Linked DNA regions of Homo sapiens. The protein of the gene in region 1 interacts with the protein of each later gene in a pairwise test. Each region holds a gene or a part of one and is shown in the gene's direction. Other genes may lie near its edges.

Evidence for each region.
Region 2: the proteins of NAA11 (region 1) and BAALC interact in binary tests that used the Homo sapiens proteins (3 or more experiments, as listed by UniProt).

What each region holds. Positions count from the first base shown.
Region 1 is NC_000004.12:79,316,178-79,323,211, reverse strand, and holds the end of NAA11 (N-alpha-acetyltransferase 11), read left to right. Parts: intron 1-5,420; 3' UTR 5,421-6,565; downstream 6,566-7,034.
Region 2 is NC_000008.11:103,143,714-103,150,747, forward strand, and holds part of BAALC (brain and acute leukemia cytoplasmic protein), read left to right. Parts: intron 1-7,034. UniProt on the Homo sapiens protein: May play a synaptic role at the postsynaptic lipid rafts possibly through interaction with CAMK2A.

The sequences.
Region 1 (7,034 bases):
TCTAGTCACCTTACCCTTACATGTATGAAAGGCAGCAACTTCTCATGGCAAAGTCTAGTCATAAATAGTGTATTCTGTATATAATTTCAGTAAGTGCTATTTGATTAGTCTACTCATTCATAAAAATATTTGTCAGGCATTAGGCTTGGAGCTGAGTATACAGCAGTGATCAAGACAGACTGATGTTTATATTATATAGCATTTAAGAATAAATGGACTTTTTTTTTGCATTTTAATGCCAAAACCGAAGCTATAACACACTAATCCCATTTTATTTTCATTCAGTTACAGTTCAGTATGTTATAAAAATTTAGATACAGTAAGTCTTTGGTGGTTAGAAAGAATCTGTCCTCAGAGGAGATTTTGCATCTGACTTTTAATAACCTGAAAGTTTCACAGTGACTGATTCATTTTTTCTAAAAAATAAAGCCGGCAGAACAGTCTAAAAGCAAAGATGAAATTAAAACTTGATGCCTTGAGAAAGCGTTGTCAAATTTACACCTGTCTTGAAAACCCTGGAGGGCTCTCTCAAGACTCTTTGAATGCACAAACCTTTTAAAAAAAATTTCAACTTTCAAATTCCTTCGTAGAAGGACTTACACAGTATTGATCTCATCTTTGTAGTTATTTGCTTCTCTTCATTGTTAAACTCTAGCTGAGAACAGAGCTAATCAGAGGTTGTTTTAAAACCATATATATATATATACACACACACACACACACACCTATAAAACTGATGAATTCAAAAGCACTTAATATCTGCTATGAGAAACAAAATAACTGCCACTGTAGTAAAAGAAGAGAGAAATAATAAATAAGAAAATTCATTGTTGTGTCACAGTTATAAATTTCAGCATACAAATTCAAGAATAATTGAACTGTTTCTTTATGATACCGTAATTGAACTTTATTTCTAAGTTGAAGGAAATGTTTCCTAGACTGAGCTTCACCGTCTTTCTGAGTTGTTATCTGCTGAGACATATTCAATGGCCCCATCCAATCTTTGATCCTCAGGATTCACTTCTGGGTCTTTTCCAACCGGAGGTCTCTTACCATTTTGGTAGCAAGGGTATATGAGTATTAGTCTGCACAGGCTAACTGCTCTAAAAATTAACTTCCAAATCTCAGTAACTTAACCCAATAAAATCTTATTTCTCACATCATAGTACAATGTGGGTCATCAGTGTGGTGGTGATGTGGAGTAGAGGGGAAAAGATGGACCCTACTCCATGGTATCATTCAGGGATCATTTAGACAGGGATTCTTAATTTTCTGTAGCTCCCTTTGGCAATCTGGTGAAGCAGAAAAATTTTTAAAAGATGTAAAAATTATACCAGATTACAAAGGAAAACAATTTCATTGATATAGTTATCAAACTATTTTAAAAATACTTTTGTTGTAATATATGTGCTTTGTGTTAGCATATTGAATAGCCTAATAATTACTATTATTTCAAAGTAAATTTTAGTATAAATGATATTTAAGATACCTTAAGTATCTATAATGTGATATGAAAATACCTATGAGTTTTATTGGTGACAAAGTCTCAAGTATTGCTAATACTACTGTGCATTGATTCCTATGTTCATAATTTAAAGAATTGCCAGATTTCAGTTAGAGGTTGATGAAAATACAGAATTGTTTTTGTTCCAAATCCAAGGTCATGGTTCTCCTACATCTTATTAAATAGATCCCAGGTTAAGAACTCCTAATTCAATGACTCTTGTCATTTTCTAGGATCATAAGACCTTCAACTGGTTCATATACATTCAACTAGCAGATGAGAGAAAAGAATGTATATAGTGGTTAATAAAGGTTTTAAAAGTCAAGTCTTACCCAACTAACTGCAGGGGAGGCTATGATATTTAGTTTAGCTTTGTGCTCAGGAAAGAAAGGAAGGAGTTCAGCAACAACACAGCATAGTTTCTGCCACAATAGGAAACATCCTAGTGGTGCTCTGGACTTTGAGAAGTTTTGCTTCCATGCCCAGTTAGAAGCAATGGGATCATACAGCTGCTCTCACTCCATGGCATGGCCCAGGGAACTCTGTTAGGCTGTCTGAGGTTGTCTACATAAACACCTGACATATATTTATTCTGCTGCTTCACAAACTTGGGCGTGGAAAACTATGGGATTCTGTTATCTTGCTGCCATTATGCCACTAATTAAACCTGGGACAAATGACCCCTCTCCTCTGAAGTCCCCAAAACTGTCTAAATCTTCACTTGCATCCCATTTAATAGGGATTCACCAGCACATAGGTCTAGCTCCCTGAATGGAGAAAGGCTACAGTGAAGAAAGAAAGAACAGGAAAAACATTTAAAAGGCTCATACTGCAAAAGTACTATCCTTCTACAATTGTGGTGCTCCCTCCTGTGGAGCTGGAGTTCAAATACCTATAGAAAAAATGTCCTAAAAAAAATATTTTTCATTTTCCCTATCTGTACTTTTGGATTTGGGAACAGAGACAGAGTTAGAAGTGATGCTGAGCAGGACAGTTGGTGAAGAACTGGTTGATTTCATCTAAAAAATGGTAATAAAAATTGCTCTTCACACTATGAAAACGCACTGTTTTGCAGGTATTAATTCTAAGCACTGTTAATGATGTGTTTCATTTATTCCTCATAATAAGCCTGTGAGGTAGGTACTATTACTCCATTTTGTGGTTGAGGAAATCATGTCACAGGGAGGGCTGCATGTTATACAGATAGTGGAAAACAAGGATGCAAACTCAGGTGGTCAGACTCCATGATTGAGAAGATTAAATGAGTCAATCTATGTAAATTGCTAAGCACAACTCCTCACACACAGTAAAATAATCAATAAATTTTAGCTCTTAATATAATCGATAGTAAGAGTAACTTTTCAGGTTCTCTTCTTCTCCACGGTAATCAAATGATAGAATGTTGTGTATGAGCAGCAACAGTTTGCAATCTTGGATGGGAAATGCATCTTAATGATTAAAATAGCTTTCACTGACAAGCTAAATGTCAAAGCATTCAGCTGAATCAACGCTTGTCAACGGCAGAGTTTCTTGGGAGCCATAGCAATGAAGACAGGTCAGTTCAAAACATGCTGGTTGAGGCAGGAATGTCATCAAACTGCTGCTTATCTCTTGACAAGAAATATGTGCTTGATTATTAATAACAAAAATGAAAAAAATGCAAAATCTTAGTGTTTTCAATTGAGCTGGCAACATTGAGTTAAGTAAGGTTACTTCAGTGACTCTCCCTTTCTGGTTTATTCTTTGTGTCGCTAAACTGTCATTCTAACAAAAAGTTGTTAAATGTTCACATGAGCAGTCACTGAAATAGACTGTTCTTAATTTTACCAGACAACTAATTATAACTGGAATGATATAATGAAATATGGAAGAAACCTACAGACTGACAGGTCTGGTAAATTCGTAGTATAACCTTACCCCAGATATGCCAGAAACCATAGATTTCAAATGCAACTGCACTCTATGAAGATAAAGAGGGGGTTGGGAAGAGATAAAATATTGTTTTGAAATACTAATCAGATAGATGCCATTTGTTGAATTATTTATAATCTCTAACAATGTCACCTTTCAATCAGTGTATGATGTACATGTAGGATGACTGAAATACCAACTTTGTCAGAAGTAACTGATAAAAGCAGAGGTTTTTCCTAAATTTTGTACTCTATGCTCTAGTATATGAAATCCAATGGGCTTTATGGTACAGGAGGTTAGATAGAATATTTAAAATTCTTTGAATGGGCAATGATTCAAAGAGCCACCATAAAAGCCTTTCTGAAAATATTCTACAATGCCATTTCTATAGATAAATATCTTTGGAAAATTATAGGATTTTTTTTTAAAGTAAAGCCATAGTATTCTGTTTCATGTTTATAACACCATATCGACAAATAGCATGTATTTGTCAGGCTTCCATAGCCCACCTTTAAGAAAACCTGATAATGTAAAACTTTGAACTTAATAAGCAAGACATTAAGGGCTTGGGGTGGGCACAGCGGCTCATGCCTGTAATCCCAGCACTTTAGGAGGCCAAGGCGGGAGCTTTGCATGAGGCCAGGAGTTCAAGACCAGCCTTGAAAACATAGCAAGACCTAGTCTCTACAAAAACTAAAAAACATTAGCCAGCGTGGTGGTGTATACTGGTGCGTGCTTGTAGTCCTAGCTACTCAGGAGGCTGAGGCTGGAGGATCACTTGTGCCCAGGAGTTTGAGGCTCTTGTGAGCCATGATTGTACCACTGTGCTCCAGTCTGGGTGACAGAGCAAGACCCTGTCTCAAAAAAAGGACTATAATACTAACATTTTAAAGGGAATCTTTATGAAAAATACCTATACTCTTAAACAACAAACTATCCTATAGCCTTTATTACAGTGTTATTTGACTTTTTCAGTTTAATTTCTTAAAATTTTCAAGCAGTATTTACTGAGATAACTAAAACAGCTATATAACTTCTTTTGCATGCCTGTTCATGCAAAAATGAAAAAGGCAATGATGATAGTCTTTCTGACCTGTTCCTCCATATCTTGTGTCTCTTTTGTTATAGCAAATATACTTTAAAAAATAAGATTTTACATAGTATTACCTCTTACAACTGGCTTCACTTGTTATTCTGGCAACAGAATTTTCTATAACAATGATTTTGTACAAAAATGCTTTTTAACTGCTCTGTGCATAATAGTCAGCCTCAATCTTATTTACTTCTGTGTGCATATGATAGATGAAAAGGTACTGAGTAAATATTTATTGAATGAATGAATGAATGGACCTCTCAAATTACCCATATAATAAATTTTTTTAAAGGAGAGAAAAATAATGTATGTATGATTCCTCTTACCTGATATAATTACCTACTTCCTCTTACCTGATGTAATTAGGGCACTTTAATTTGTGAATAAAGAAACATTATGGTTATTTTGGTTTCCTGTCCAGGCCTCAGAAAGAAAATATGACTTATAGAGTTGGACACATTGCATCTAACTTATCAAGAGCTAAAAAGGCCTTTCATTTCTTTAGAATTGGAATAAATTTTCTTTTGAGTGGAGTAGGATGAGATAGAATTTAAAGATGACAAGCAAAATGATCTCAGTTTCTTTAGTTTTAAAATAGGTTCTTTGGGGGTAAATCCCAGTTTTTTGGTGTTCTTCCTGTCCCTTTCTCCTGGCAGAAATGTCCTTTAGATGTCAGGAAAGGTTCATGTGTTCTTATGGCAGGGAGGGGAGAGAGCCCCAGATCTGTGTGTGGTCTTTGTGCAGTCATCTGAATTCTCACTGACTGCCATGGAGATATATCTAGTCCAAACTAGTTACTGGGTTTCTTTATCTGCTGTTCCAGTCTATCATTAACTAAACCAGTATTCTTTCAGAGCTGTCAGAGCTTATAGCTCTCCCTTTCTCATTTGTTTTCTTCTCATTTTTCAACAGCATTTCAGGTCCTCATGTCTCAACCACATCTACTCTGTGAACCCTGGCTTAGTCTGTCTGCTCTGCAGCATCTGCTGTGGGGATCATCTCACAGTGACCAGAATGGCTTCTCACTCTTAACTCTATAAACAACCACCTTTCACATATCCTGCTGGGATCATGAAGGAATACCTGGACACAAGAGCCACTGCACAACAGCCAAGGAACTTTGAGACCTGCCATTACAGAACCTTTCTTGGCCTACTCACACTACGCTGCCATTTTATTCTGTTTGTAGTAGTCCTCTGTTGGGTGTGGTTATCCTGCAAGTTTTTCTCCTTTTAGAATGATGAACAGGAAGCAGGGCAAACTCTTGAAGATTTCCAGCTTTCAGTTTTTGTTTTTGTTTTTTAACCATTATTTACCTGAGTTTTCATCCTTGAGGAGGTGAAGTAGTCAGGACCATGAAGTCAGACCTCATGCCCTCTTCCTCCTCTTTCCTGGAAGAAGTATTCAGTTTCCTTTTCCTTTCTCTGGTAACTCCTCCTTTATACTATTCCCCCCTCCCTTTTTTTTGAGGAGGAGGGCATCACCTTCCCAGTGGGAAAAGGTGTTAAGTTAGGAGCTTCTACTGTACAATCAGAACTTGGAGATTTTAAGAAAAGGACAAACGGTAATTAAATTGGAATCTCTAATGTGCTTGTTTGTGTTAGTTTTTTTGTGATTATGTCACTTGGCATTTATTGAGTACCTGCAGTGTTCACACACAATGCTGGAGCCTTCATTAGTTACATATTTAACCCTCTCAGCAACCCTGTAAAGTAGGTAGTATTATCCCTGTTTTACAGATGAGGAAACTGAAGCTCAGAGAAGTGAATTAAATATCCTGGATCTGAACCCAATTCTGTTTGAATTCAAAGCCAAAGTTCCTTCTACTTTTCTGTTCCTACTCTTTGCATTTTATTTATAAATGTGTTAAAATTTTAGCAAAAATGGAGAATCTGCTGTTTAAAAATGTGTTTGCTTAATACATGGCTACTGTATGTCAATTGTAAATATTTATATAACCTACAATTATAATCTATTTTTATTATTTTTCTCTAGTAAAAATAAGTGAAGACAAAGTACCTTGACCTCTGCAGTAAAAGTTACCAGATAAATCCAGAGTTATCATTACTTAATGTTGTTTTTATGTTCACTGAATGTGAATTACCAAAGTATATAACATTTTTCATGTTTAAACTTTTATGAAAACTGGTGTGTATGGATTTAAGTCAAAGCCTGGACTTTATCTGGTGACAAGAGGTAAGTCTTTTCTGTGTAATCGTAATTAGCCCTGCTAAGCAGTTCTTACAGATCTACCCTAGTGCACTCTAAGAATGTCTGCCTAATGGTAAATGATTGCCTGAGGCAGATATAAAAGTTTTTCCCTACATGAAAGGATTTGCCATTTCTTGTGCCAATACAGTATGATAAAATCTATCTTTCCATCTTTTCCTTTTTTCTTTTTAATATTCTATCTCAACGCTAAATTATTTTATTCTTTCCTCTCAACCATGTGTTTATCTCTTTATTTTTAAATATTACAGCTTTCTAACATCTGTCTCTAGGGCAGCATAATCTTACTGATGAAGT
Region 2 (7,034 bases), on another chromosome or scaffold:
GACTTTTGAGGGCTAGGGGAGAAGCTAATTCATCTTTGCATCTTCTGTGCTGAACACATCTGGGACTTGTAAAAGTTTTCAGAATGAATGGATGCTCTGTCTGAACCTGTCCTCCGTCCTGTCAGCTCTTCCTAGAGCCCCTTCTGCCTCTTCTTTGCAGTACTTGCTACTGAGGTTTTCCCACTTGAATCAATTTAGCCTGAATTCTTCCAACGGCCTTTCTGATCGCACAACTTCTCTTTAAAAAGTTCTCCCCAACTTTACCCTACTCCATTCAAACACCTGGCCCAACCCAACGATTCCATTTCTTCTGTAGCCTCCCTGAACCCACAACCTCAACTCCACAAACATGTCTGCCCAAGAAAAGTCCCATTTAATCATATCTGCTTTTAAATCTCACTTGTGTTTCTCTTAGCCCAATCCAGATTGAGGGTGTGTCACATGACAGGTGTTCAGCAAATATTTGTTGAATGAATTCTGAATTTCACTGCAGGGAGGGGGCATGTTTTTCTCCCAGTTCCACAAAGAAGAAGGTTTCTTGCATCTTCTTACTCAAAAAATGATCCTGAGCCTGTGGTTCCTGTTTTTGGAGATCATCTCCACTACTCAATGGAATTGAATTAATTTTTTAGATTTGACTGTTACGTAGGCTAGAATTTAAAAGCTAGCTGAAGCCAAGGTATGTGATATCCATTGCTTTCCTGTGTCACCAAAGTCTGTCCCTCTGTTACAGAAGGAAATTAAATTGGTCTGACATAATTTAATCCTCATAAAATCAGTCTGCTGGATTGATTTTTAATTCTGTTGCCTGGTGGGGGTCTCCAAGGAGAAAGGAAGTCTCTGAGGTTGCCATGACCCAACCTAGCTCAGTCATTCCATTCATTAATAACTTCCTAGCTTCATCTCAGTGTAATCACAAGCCCCAAAAATTGCATCCTTAAGCACACTTTTTTTCTAATTTCTCCAGAGAAAACATTTCAAAACTTTCTAAAGGACTTGTACTTTACATTTTTAAATTGCTAAATCATTGTCTTAGTATAATAGAGGTTTGCAGAATTACAGACAGCAAAATGATTTACCTAAATAAACTGAAAGATAGTCAAATAAAATGGACAGCATTTAATATCACCATTACCCATCATTTATTAATGACTTACTGGGGCCTGGTGCTTTATTGGGCACTTTGAATTTTCTCATTGAATCCTCACTTCAGGAACGAGGCAGGAACTATAGCCACCCTCCTTTTACAAGTGAGGAAATGAGGCTGGAAGTCTGCAAGTAACTTTTCCCAGTTCCAGCCTGGAATCTAGTTCTATCCATTTCCAAAGCCTCTACTCCTAAATACTGCCTTCCTGATTAATAGGGGATATGCTATGAAATTCTTGATTTTACAGTTCACTAAACTCAAAGTCAAGTCTGATCTCTTGATTCTACTCTGATCTCAGACAGCACAATTGTCTTCTGCATCATCTCTAAGGATGGAATATCTTTTCCCTAAGGAAGGAGGCTTTCCCATAACTTTATGAAGCAGTTCTCCTGTGAGACTCTTCCTGCTTCCTTGTAATTTCTACCCGGTGAACTCCAGACCCATGTGATCAAGTCTTGCACAGACAACTCTTTCAATATTTGAAGATGGCTGTCACATCTCTTACCATTGGTCTTCCAGGTCAAATACATGCAGTTCCTTCAATCACTTCTCACACCTCAGGTAGGCCTGACCACATTCTCTAAATACACTACTCGGTTTGTCAAAGTCCCTCTTGATACAAGGGACCTATGGCTAACTCCAAGCTACTGATGTCAGCTGAACGGCATAGGGCAATACAAGGTGTGCTATGATATGGTCATTGAACAAACCTCTCTTGGTGCATGTAAAATCAGGTTAGGATTTGTTTGTTTTCCTGCTGTTGTTGTTGCCATATTACCTTGAAGACTCACATTAAGCTTATGATTAGTTAAAATCCTTAGATCTTTCTTTATAATCAAATTTAAGTTTTATGACATCAAGGACATTGTATTTTCTCTGCTATGTACCCAGCACCTGGTACAGTGACTAGAACGTAGGTGGCGCTCAATAAACGTTTGTTGAATGAATGAATTTCTTTCCTTATGAATCCTGAATTGGTATAATTGACTTCAGTAACCCAAATAAGGAATTTTTGCATTTATTTCTGTTAAATTTCATCTTATTGGTTTCAGTTTAACGTTTAAATTTGCTGACCTTGATTCATTTTGATAGAGCTATGAAAACAATATTCTAGGTCTTTGTTTCTCTGTGTTGACAGAATAAGATAAAAGACATCTTTTTTTGCTCTTTTGTTCACTGAATAGACATTTGGCACAAAGATGACCTGAAGAAGTTACTATTATAGGGAAGAAAAACATAAAAGTGGACACCGTTCAGGTCAGCATTGTCCATGGTCCATACTAGAAGGGCATGTAGAAAAGCATTAGAGGCATTCAGGAACTAAGCAGTTTTTTTCTGCCTGGGGAGGGGTCAGTGTGTATACAGACCCCTGCAGGAGCCCAGCAGAGGAAGGGGGACTGTCCGAGCCAACCCTCCCACCCTGGAGAGGAACAGGAGTGCAGCCCAGCTGGCCTGACTCCATCCCCGAGAGTGAGAGCACCTGTGGAGAGGACAGCCAGGGCTTCCTGGTGGATAAACCCCCTCCACCCACACCCCAGCTGCCTTGACTTACCTGTTACCGCTTGTGGTTCTATCTTTGAATAACTAGTGATTAATGTCTGCTTCCGTCAAGGATGACTGTTAGGTTTGGTAAGGCAAGGGTTCTGTTGGGTTAGATAAGGTTTCATTTCACACACAGTCCTATCCCTGTACCTAACGCTGTTCTGGCTACATCAGGACCCTGAGTAACTTCTCATAAATGAATAAATCTAAAACTTCTGTTTGTCAATTTCTTCTTGTAGACCCCAGAGATGATGTTCTCTTTCCTCATCAGTTCTCTCTGCTCAACTTTTTGTTGTCTGTCTGATGGGCTGCACAGTAAGAAAACATCCCCACCTTCCTTACACCCCTTTTGCCAAACACAAGCCTTTTTGTTATAAGCTGTTTCTTAAAATCACTGCAAGAGACAAGTGGTAACAAACCTAGGCAGTTTGTAAAGGTTTAGGCAGCCTCATGTTCCCATGGCCCTTGTCTCCTGGGCAGAGTATCATGTTGTGCCATTGGCTCTCCAGACACTTTGAGAGTCTAGTGATGGTACCTGTCACACTGCATTGCCAGGGCTTGGTCATTCCTCTGTCTCTCTAGTTAGTCTGTGAGCTCTTCCAGGTTGGGGATCACATGATTGATATTTGCATGCCTGGCATCTTCCACACATTTGTTGAATGACTGTGAAAATGAATAAATGAATGAATGATCTAGCTGTGCAAATGAAGCTTAGTCTGTCATTCTTATAACCTCTTTCCTGAGTCTCATCTTAGATGCTTTTGTCTTAGATATCAGTCCATTGAACCTTGTCTTCATTGGACATTAGATAAAACAATTCCAACCCTAGCCAAAGATGAATTTAAGGTGACTCCACTGCAGGGTGTAGTAGTATCCTAAGTGCATTCCAGAATTTCCTCCAGAATATGTAGAAAGAATGAATAAGACCTACTATTTGATAGCACAATGGGATGACGATAGTCAATAATAACTCAACTGTATATTTTTAAATAATTTAAAGAGTGTAATTGGATTGTATGTAACTCAAAGGATAAATGCAGATTTTTTTTTCTGCAAAAAACATTGCAGATTTTTTTTTCTTCGGTTAATAGGCCCTGGTGGGAAGAACCTAGTCTTCTCTGAGTCAGAAAGGGGTCTTTTCCTGGCTCATTCTGCACTCAGCAATCCCTCAGGTTTGGACTCCTGGAGGTCCAACCTTCACCCTGGGATCTGTGCACCTGTGATCCATAGCATCTTCCTGCTGATAAGGCCATTCTGCCCTTGTGAAGTTGGGTGTCTAAACCTGTTCTCGGACAATGGTGCTGTGCCATTCATCCCAGGAGCCCTCCCATGTCAGGCCTACAGCCTCGAGACACTCTCAGCAGACCTTTGGCCTCCGCTGCAAAATCCTATCCCTATAAAGACTCCTTCAGAGCCTCTCTGGCCAGTCTATATGCCACATTTACTCTCCTCTGCAGAGCAGACTCGAGGGGTTTACCCTGAGCCCAATCATGATATAGCTCCTGCTAGCTTGGCTACCAGGAACGCTTGCTTCCTCACATGCCTGACTCCCACTCTGTCTCATGCCCAACCACAGCCATCTCTCTTGAGAATGTTGTTCTTTTAGAATGTTGTTATGTGCTGATTTGTGTCTCCCCCAATTCACATGTTGAAGCCCTAACCCCCTCTCTACCCCGGTACCTCAGAATGTGACCTTATTTGGAAAGAGAATCTTTAAAGAGGTAATCAAGTTGAAATGAGTTCATTAGGGTGGGCCCTAATCCAGAATGACTGGTGTCCTTATGAAAAGGGGAAATTTGGAGATAGAGAGACACACAGGGAGAACTCCATGTGGAGATGAAGGCAGAGACCGGTGATGCTGCCACCAGCCAAGGAGCATCAAGGAAAGTCCACTGAAAACCACTGGAAGCTCAGAGAGAGGCAGGGGACAGATTCTCCCTCAGGGCCTCCAGAAGGAACCAACCCTGCTGATATCTTTTTTCATTTTTGATTTCTGTGGGTACATAGTAGGTGTATGTATGCATGGAGCACATGAGATGTTTTGATACAGGCATGCAATGTGAAATAAGCACATCATGGAGAATGGGGTATCCATCACCTCAAGCATTTATCTTTTGAGTTGCAAACAATCTAGTTATACTTTGTTATTTCAAAATGTATGATTAAGTTATTATTGACTATAGTCACCTTATTGTGCTGTCAAATAGTAGGTCTCATTCATTCTTTCTGCCTTTTTTTGTTTGTTTGTTTTTTGTAACCGGCCTGCTGATATCTTGGTCCTGGACTTCTGGCCTCCAGAACTGGGAAACAGCAGGTTTCCGTTGTTTAAGCCATGCGGTTTGTGGCACTTTGTTATGGCAGCCCTAGCAAACTAATGCAAGTGTGTTTATGAGCACTAACACTGTGAACATTTGGAAATAATAAGAGAGACGGATTTCCACTGTTACTTCCTCACACTTTTTTCTGAGATTGGATCTATTTCCTGGCTGTTTAGATTCAAATAGCATTTATTTGTATCTACTATTTGCATTTACTATATGTGAGAATTTTTCTTTTTGACACTAGTTTATATCACCCTCCGAAATAACCTCATAAACCATTGTTCTCATCACTTGCCAGATGAGGAGCTGGGATTCAGTGAGATGAAGAGACTGAGCCAGGCCACCAGCTTGGAAGTGGGAGAGCTAGGATCAGAATTCAGGTCTCTTGTTTCTGAATTCAGGGCAGGGTCCATTGTGCTGTGCTGCTAAGCACGAATGTAGTACCCTCCCCCCACCCCATCTGCCTTGGGCTTTTCTGAAAATATTAACCATTTAGCGTGGGAGCCTCCTGCTAGCATTTACAAGGCTGAGTCCTGCAGCTCTGCGGTGCTTACACTGCCCTCTCCCTGTGCTGAGTGCCCGTGCTGCTCCAATCTCCATCTCCATAGAAAGGGTTGCAGGAGGTGCCCCAGGTGTCACCTGCATCCCAGTCACCTGACAGGCCCATTAAACAGGAACAGTCTTTAGGCAGAATCATATATTTTTTTCTGGTTTCAAATGCAGTGCATGCTCCTAATTAAACATTTAAAAAGCATAGAAAAAGCACACAGAGGAAAATAATGCCTCTCTCAGCATTTAGGTTTCATCTTTCAGGTCCCATGAAGACGATGCTGTATTTGCATCTTATACGTGAAGGTGATGTTTAAAGTTCCGGATGGGGGGATGGGAAAAATTCCTCAAACTGCTTGGAAGCTCAAAAACCAAGAAAAATTATATTTGTTCATTTTTGTATTTAGGAAACTATATGGAGGTAGTGGGAGCCCAAGTCTAGTTTGAATGGAGGAAGAGAAAGGGGGAAAGGTCATGGAGAAGTAAAGGGATTTTTCTTTTTTTCTTTCAATACTGGGCAAATATACTTGAATTCAGGCAAATTACATACCAGGTAATTACTGTAGGTGATTCCTCCATGTTTCCCTCTTACCTCCCCCTCAAGCCCCCACAACAGGCTCAGGCTGAGTATGCTGTTCTATATTTTTCCTAGCTGTTTTCTGGGATTTAGTCTCTTTATGGGTTGTATTAGTCTGTTTTCATGCTGCCGACGAAGACACACCTGAGACTGGGTAATTTATAAGGAAGAAGAGGTTTAATGGACTCACAGTTCCATGTGGCTGGGGAGGCCTCACAATTATGATGGAAGGTGAAAGGCACATCTCACATGGCAGCAGACAAGAGAAGAGAGCTTGTGCAGGGAAACTCCCCTTTATAAAACCATCGGATCTCATGAGACTTATTCACTATTATGAGAACAGCATGGGAAAGACTCACCCCCATGATTCAATTACCTCCCACCTGGCCCCTCCCACAACACGTGGGAATTGTGGGAGATACAATTCAAGATAAGATTTGGGTGGGGACACAGCCAAACCATATCATGGATATAGAAACATGGCTGTGTGTGTGTGTGTGTGTCTGTGTGTCTGTGTGTATGGCTGGGTGTGTCTGTGTGTGTGTGTGTGCAGGGACCAGCTTTCTGAGTCTCAAATGCCCTTGAGGTCAGACAGGTTGGCTGCCCAGAGCTATGGCTGGTACCACTCCATAGGCTTCCAGCTCTAGGTCTTTGTGTCAGATGGGATAGGTACCTAATGTCTGCCTACATCTCACCATGTGGCTTCTGTGTAATGAAGCAAAACCAAAAGTCTGGGTAGGTTTTTCTTAATCTAACACAATCTGCTTTACAAATGATGCCAGCTTCTCCTAGATTCTGGGATTAGGTTGCCTACCAGTCTTCACTTGTGGTGATGTTGTGAGTCTTGGTCTTTTTCTATGTCTTCACAGGCATTTTAGTGGGCAGTTAGGCAAAGCTG